Linked DNA regions of Homo sapiens. The protein of the gene in region 1 purifies or fractionates together with the protein of each later gene. This does not show direct contact. Each region holds a gene or a part of one and is shown in the gene's direction. Other genes may lie near its edges.

Region 1 (3,827 bases):
TCAGCAAACTATCGCAAGGACAAAAAAACCAAACACCTCATGTTCTCACTCATAGGTGGGAATTGAACAATGAGAACACATGGACACAGGAAGGGGAACATCACACACCAGGGACTGTTGTGGGGTGGGGGGAGGGGGGAGGGAGAGCATTATGAGATATACCTAATGCTAAATGACGAGTTATTGGGTGCAGCACGCCAACATGGCACATGTATACATATGTAACAAACCTGCACGTTGTGCACATGTACCCTAAAACTTAAAGTATAATAATAATAAAATTAAAAAAAAAGAAACAGCATGGGCTCAGCCAGGAGCATCCCTTTGATATATAAACTAACCAGTCAAGGTCCAGACCTCCTCTCTCCAGTCCATACACCCCAGGTGGCAATATTCCTCTGCCTTAATCATCCCAGGGTCAGGTACCAGACAACTGGGGGACTACCTGCATAGCTTAGAGCCCACCAAAATTATCCAAACTAGGCCAAATGCAGTGGCTCACGCCTGTAATCCCAGCACTTTGGGAAGCCAAGGTTGGCGGATCACCTGAGGTCAGGAGTTTGAGACCAGCCTGGCCAACAGGGTGAAACCCTGTCCGTACTAAAAGTACAAAAACTAGCTGGGCATGGCAATGTGCATCTGTAATCCCAGCTACCAGGGAGGCCATAGGAGAATTGCTTGAACCCAGGAGGCAGAAGCTGCAGTGAGCCAAGATCACACTACTGCACTTCAGCTTGGGCGATAGAGCAAACTCCGTCTCAAAATAAAACAAAACAAAATTATCCAGACTAGCTAATCGTAGTGTTCTCCCCACCCTGCTTTTTTTTTTTTCCTGAGATGGAGTCGCTCTGTTGCCCAGGCTGGAGTGCAGTGATGCGATCTTGGCTCACTGCAACCTCCACCCCCCGGGTTTAAGCAATTCTTCTGCCTCAGCCTCCAGAGTAGCTGTGATTACAGGTGCTCACCACCATGCCCTGCTAAGTTTTGTATTTTAGTAGAGATGGGTTTCACCATCTCTAGACTAGACTTCTTTTTTTATCTGTCCATGTGTGGCAGCCCCTCTGTGCATATGGTCAGGCTGGTCTTGAACTCCTGACCTCAAGTGATCCACCTGCCTCGGCCTCCCAAAGTGCTGGGTGGCGTGAGCCACCATGCCCAGCCACCCTGCATTTCTTTTCCCAAGGAAACCCCAATAAAAGCTCTGGGCTAATGCTTTCCCCTTGCTCCTGTCTTCTGCCTCCTGACCACCTTGTTGTCTTAACCATGTGGCCCTGAGTAGCCTGCCTTGCCTCCCGTCACTAGGACCTATGAGTATAATACTTTGTTTTTCTGAGCCTTTCTTTAATCCTCTGTGTCCTCTTGTGGCCATACCTGACCATTTAATACAAGAACAAAAAACAACGATCACAGAAAATTCCTGATGTGGAAGCTGATATGGTTGCTGATGGCCTCCTTTTCCCCATCCATTCCCTTCCCCCAGAAACCTTTGCCTCCATGAAGAATGTGCACTGCTTTCCATCTCTCTCCTAAGGGTCCTCAAATGTCACAAAAATCAGAATGGCTTCTTCTAAGAGCAAAGGATGGGAACTCCTTTGTCTTTACCTTTCTAGACTAGACTTCTTTTTTTGTCTGTCCATGTGTGGCAGTCCCTCTGTGCATATGGTCATTTAGTTATTTTGACCTTCAGATGTATTACCTTAATTTAAATGCCTACGGCTTGATATAAATGTCGTTCCTTAACTCCTATGACAGTACATTTTCCTATGTAACTCATGAAGACATCTGTAATTGCTTTAATGGTAAGTACCATTAGACTTTTCCTTGCATTCTTCCTCTCAACCTATTTAGTGGAGGGTGATTCAGAATTCCCTGTGTCCTCATCCTGTCATTATTTTCAGAAGTTGTGGGCATTGTGTCTCACTCCACCATGCCGTGTATTGATAGACTGCTTTTGTTTCTGTTTTCATGAGAATAGCTGCTTTTCACAGCATTCAGTTCATTAGCTCCACTGGTAGGGATCAACTGTGTGTGGAAGGGGAAGGGGACAGGGACAGAGGGCAAGCTAAATCAGAGCGGGATTAAGCAACTTTCATTGTCACACAGTCACAGAGTTAGTGACCAAACTTGAACTAGAACATGGTTCTCATCAGCATTGTTTATCAAACTATATGCAAGTATGCTGGTCTCAAATGAAACTCAAAGAAACCATAAGGAAAGAATTAGGTGAATCCATCTTATAACCAGGAAACCTATTCCTATGCAATTTGCTGCCCCTGTGTTTTCTCCTTAAAATAACAATATCATGTTAATAATTATAATTATTAATATAACTAAAATGGGGGGACGTGTGTTCCCAAAATTATAGCACAAGTAAAATGAAATTGTGCATATTTAAATTTATGTGTATTATCCACCTATTTAAAAAGATTCTGCCAAGTACCTCATCAAGTGGAATCTGACTTTCTATGTAAGACTATGTTGGAAATAAGTATAGGACTATTGTTCTATTTTACCACTGTATTTCCTGAGTTTTTTAAGGAAGTTTGCTGAGACTTCTGTTAATCTGCAACTCAACAGAGATTTGTTGTAGAATTTGGCTTCAAAAATAATAAAATCATTTAAGCTCAACATTTCAGTGTCTCATACCTAATCTCCACTATCCTCAGTCCAATGAACAGTGTTATTTGAGGCTAAATGGTCTTAAGAATCTCAGACTTTACAGGAGTCTTAGTCAAAGCAAAATCAACTTGAGCTGAATTTGTTAATGAGAATCATACAGCTAACCCATGTATAATACTAATACATGTATTATCTTATTTAATCCTCAAAATAAATCTATGCAGTAGGTTGTGTATCCCCCATTTTATAGAATTGAAAATCAAAGCTCAAGGTCACCTAGTTTGGGATTGAACCAAACACTCTGATTCCAGAGCCCACATTCTTGCCACTGTATTCCATGATCAACAGTATTTTATGTAACTTTTTATATTTATTTTTGACCAGGTGATACACTTTTGGCCATTCAGGCACCTTCTGGTACACAACTGGAGGTACCCATTCCAGAAATGGTATGTAGGATAACTTATGTTTATATAAGTGGGAAAAATGAATCTACTGTCTCAAGAAGGATATTTTCTTTAGCTGAATGTGAGCTAATTGTGTAAACACTGTGAGTTAGTCAAGTTTTTATCTAAAAGTATTGATAGCTGAATTTGTATGTCTTTAATTCCTTGGTAAAATTATAGAACTAAATGAATCATAAATGATTTTAAAGATTATTGGCTATATCCTTAGTCATTTATTGATATCATTTAGCTCAAAGTCAATTTTTAAAAAGTAATCAGAATGCTTTATCAAGTGATTTTTGTTTCATACAAAAATTAAAACTATTGTATAAAATTATCTTCAGGCTATGTGAATAAGGTGTGTATGAAACAAATGAATATTGTGTTTAGACTTGGGTCCTATCCCTAAGATATCTATCCCCAAGTAACCAAATGATTTAAAATGATTTAACATTTTGATTAAATTATTTTAAATTTGAATTTTTTAAGTTAGAGGATGTCAAGAAATGACTAATCATATGGCCAATAATCTATAAAAATAAGTTAAAATGACCACATTGGGCTGGGTGCAGTGGCTCATGCCTGTAATCTCAGCACTTTGGGAGGCCAAGGCAGGTGGATCACTTGAGGTCAGGAGTTTAAGACCAGCCTGACCAACATGGTGAAACCCCATCTCTACTAAAAATACAAAATTAGCCGGGCATGGTGGTGCATGCCTGTAATCCCAGCTACTTGGGAGGCTGAGGCAGCAGAATTGCTTCA
Region 2 (3,827 bases), on another chromosome or scaffold:
TTATCTTAAGAATACTTTTTGATCAAGATGAAATGTGTAGTATAATTCTCAAAATATTGAGGATGTTTCATAATGGTACCTATTATTAGTATGAATAGGACCCTAAGAAAGAAGGTTACTGGAATATATATTAAGTGATTTCCAGTTTATCATGCCCAAATAGGCTTTCTTAGGCCACCACTACTCTTGGAAATGCAGTGATCGGCGGGGCGTGGTGGCTTAAGCCTGTAATCCCACCCAGCACTTTGGCAGGCTGAGGTGGGCGGATCACCTGAGGTCAGGAGTTTGAGACTAGCCTGCCCAACATGGTGAAACCTCATCTCTACTAAAAATACAAAAAATTAGCCAGGCATGGTGGCGAGTGCCTATAATCCCAGCTACTCAGGAGGCTGAGACAGGAGAATCGGTTGAACCCGGGAGGCAGAGGTTGCAGTGAGCCGAGATCGCGCCATTGCACTCCAGCCTGGGTGACAAGAGCGAAACTCCATCTCAAAAAAAAAAAAAAAAACAAGAAATGCAGTGATATACTTATGACCAGGAAACAAAAATGTATCCTCTGTTTGAAAGAGTTGTCTTTGAATGCATAGAAATAATAGGAAATGCATAAGAAGGAAGTAGGAAGGTTTTGGGAGACTACACTCAGCTGATATTAGAGTAATGTTTTGGTTACTGTTTTGACAGTAGAATTAGAAACCACTTTTCATGGGCTTTGCATTTAAGAACTTTGTAGAATTTCTTAAATCTTATAATTTGCCTCTGTCCCCTTTGCCATTATTAAACATTTAGTGCTCTTTCTTGTTCATTATTACTTCTCACTTATCTATGACTTCCTTTTACTTCTTATTTTTGCCAAGAATCTCTTGGATGAGATATCTTATCACCATCAAGCATCTTGTCCTCAGTTTTGAAGCTTGTTTTTATTGGTTTACCAAAGTTTATTTGGCTTTGGCAATATGGATCATAATTATGTTCAAAAGAAACTGATGCCAGGTGTGGTGGCTCACGAACCTGTAAGCCCAACACTTTGGGAGGCCAAGGTGGGCAGATTCTGTGAGGCCAGGAGTTCGAGACCAGCCTGGGCAACATAGTGAAACCCTGTTTCTACCAAAAATACAAAAAATTAGCCCAGCATGGTGGCGCACACTTGCGGTCCCAGGTACTCAGGAGGCTGAGGTGAGAGGGTCGCTTGAGCCGGGGAGGTCTAGGCTGCTGTGAGCTGTGGTCGCATCACTGCACCTCAGCCTGGGCTACAGGAAAACCCTGTCTCAAAAAAATAAAAATAAACTAAAAAAGGAAAAGATATCATAAATTAGAATGTCATTTTTTTCATTTATGAGAGCAAGGTATATGTGACATTTCAATGACCAGTGTTGCTTGTATCTATTATTTCTCTACTTTAACTCCCTAAGTAATGACAATAAAAAAAAGACTGGGGTCTAATTCTTATAACTTGTTTTATTGTTACTTTTCTGTTTTGTTTTGTTTTGTTTTTGAGACAGGTCTCTCTGTCACCCAGTCTGGAGTGCAGTGGGTGCTCCACTGCAGCCTTGACCCCCCAAGCTCAAATGCTCCTCCCACGTCAGCCTCCCAAGTAGCTGGGACTACAGATGCAAACCACCACACCTGGCCAATTTTTGTATTTTTTTTGTAGAGATGGGGCTTTGCCATGTAGCCCAGGCTGGTCTCAAACTCCTGGACACAAGCAATCCACCTGCCTTGGCCTCTCAAAAGTGCTGGGATTACAAGCATAAGCCACTGCACCTGGGCTATTGTTAGTTTTCTAAAGCCTGTTTCTATCTAATAAAAAAGAATTCTATTAAAAAAAACAATAAAAAGGAATTAGATTTAGAATTTTTTTTACTTGTACAATCCATTATTTTTAGGCGACTTAAGTCTTTCCATCTCAGAAGTAACCTCAAAGCTCTGAAGCACAAAAGACAAATTAAAAACTATGCATCTATATTTTTTCCTTTTTTGACACCAGAATATTTGGTTTAGTATTACAAAGAGTATATGATTTTCTGGTTTTTTTCCCCCTAGGTAGTTGTCAGTGTTAAGTTTAGTCAGAGTATTGAGACTGTTAGGGTATAGATAGCAGGCAACGGTGGAAGATGGAGGCCATCTTGAAAAATGAAGAAAAGAGGTGACCTTTGAAGCCAGAGGCAGTAACAGAGGTATAATTATATGTAATAACAGATATATAAACACTTTCCCATGTTTCCTGTGCATAGTATATAAGAGTAGTACATAACTAGCAGTCTGGAACAATATAACTCCTTACTAGCTCCTGAATCTATCCAACACAGTGCCAAAAATTACTTGTATATATTATTTGATGACATATTTTACTACCTTATTTGTAAGTTTTTTTTCATGTTTATCTTAAGCTGCTGATTCTATAAACTTGTTAAAGTAATCTTTGATGCTTTGTTTTACTTAATAATTTTGTTCCAGGATACTTTAGAATTCATAGTGCAAAAAAATCATAGTTCCTTAATGGAACCAAAAGTTATTATTTTCAGCACCACTAAAGAAACATAACCACAAGGGCAAGATGAGATTGTTTATTTGAATAATTAATGTGCTTCTGGTTGTACTGTTTATATTTTTTTCTTACTGATAAGTATTCATATACTCATGATTGTGAAAAATCAGTTTAAAATGGGGAAATACTTTAAGCCCATAATTGTTATAGCTAAGGTTATTTATTGCTAATATGGCTTTCTAAGAATATTAATACTTCTACCTCTAGAGATTGTTAATATTATAGATACAATAGATACAATTTTGACTGACTTTAGGGTTTTAAGTCTGTAAACATACTTGAGAAATTTGTATTTCTCTAAATTTCATTAGCTTTCTAGAGTATAATTATAGATTTATTTGAGTATGTTATAGTTTTGCAAGTCGGCCGTTTTTAAATACAATAATGGGTATGTTTTTTTTTAAGTGATTTGTATTTTATATACAGTTGGTTTTTGTCAGTAATGTGCTCTGAGTATAAAAAAGTAATATATTGTAGGTGTAAGATGTGTTATTTAGTTTAATTTATAATTTGAGCACAAAGAGCTAATATTTGTCTAGTTCTGTGATCTATCATAACTTCCGGTGTATTTCTGTTATTCATGTTGGTCATATTTTTTCATTTGAGTCACTATTTCCTATAATAAATAGTTCTTTTACAGTCTCAATTTTCATTGCCAAAAGATATAATTAATATTTAATGTTCTTCACACTCTAAAATTCTTTGATTTTTATCCCAGGTAAATTTCTTCTTTTAACTTTTAGAAGAAGCTGTGTCTTTGTATATGGTGATAATCGCAATATAAAAAATTGGTAACTCTACACTCCTTGACTTGTGGAGAATTATAATTCAGGTCAACAGTGTGCCAATATGTAACTTCAAATTGGAGATGAATTAAATATAGTTTCTCTCTTCAAGGAATTTAAAATATAATAAACAGTTGCTGTAGCCCAGGAGTTTGAGGCTGCAGTGAACTATGAGTGCACCACTGCACTCCAGTCTGGGTGACGAGATGAGACCCAGTATTTTTTTTTTTTTTTTTTTTTTTTTTTGAGACAGAGTCTCACTCACTCTGTCACCCAGGCTGGAGTGCAGTGGTGCAATCTCGACTCCCTGCAACCTCTGCTCCCGGGTTCAAGCAATTCTCCTGCCTCAGCCTCCCGAGTAGCTAAGATTATAGGTGTGCGCCACCACACCCTGCTTATTTTTGTATTTTTGTAGAGACAGGGTTTCACCATGTTGGCCAGGCTGGTCTTGAACTCCTGACCTCAAGTGTCTGCCTGCTTCAGCCTCCCAGAGTGCT

Evidence for each region.
Region 2: the proteins of E2F5 (region 1) and LIN54 purify together in Homo sapiens (co-immunoprecipitation; one large-scale study listed by IntAct). This does not show direct contact.

The regions. Positions count from the first base shown.
Region 1 is NC_000008.11:85,204,422-85,208,248, forward strand, and holds part of E2F5 (transcription factor E2F5), read left to right. Parts: intron 1-1,755; coding exon 1,756-1,799; intron 1,800-3,003; coding exon 3,004-3,068; intron 3,069-3,827.
Region 2 is NC_000004.12:82,979,689-82,983,515, reverse strand, and holds part of LIN54 (protein lin-54 homolog), read left to right. Parts: intron 1-3,827. UniProt on the Homo sapiens protein: Component of the DREAM complex, a multiprotein complex that can both act as a transcription activator or repressor depending on the context. In G0 phase, the complex binds to more than 800 promoters and is required for repression of E2F target genes.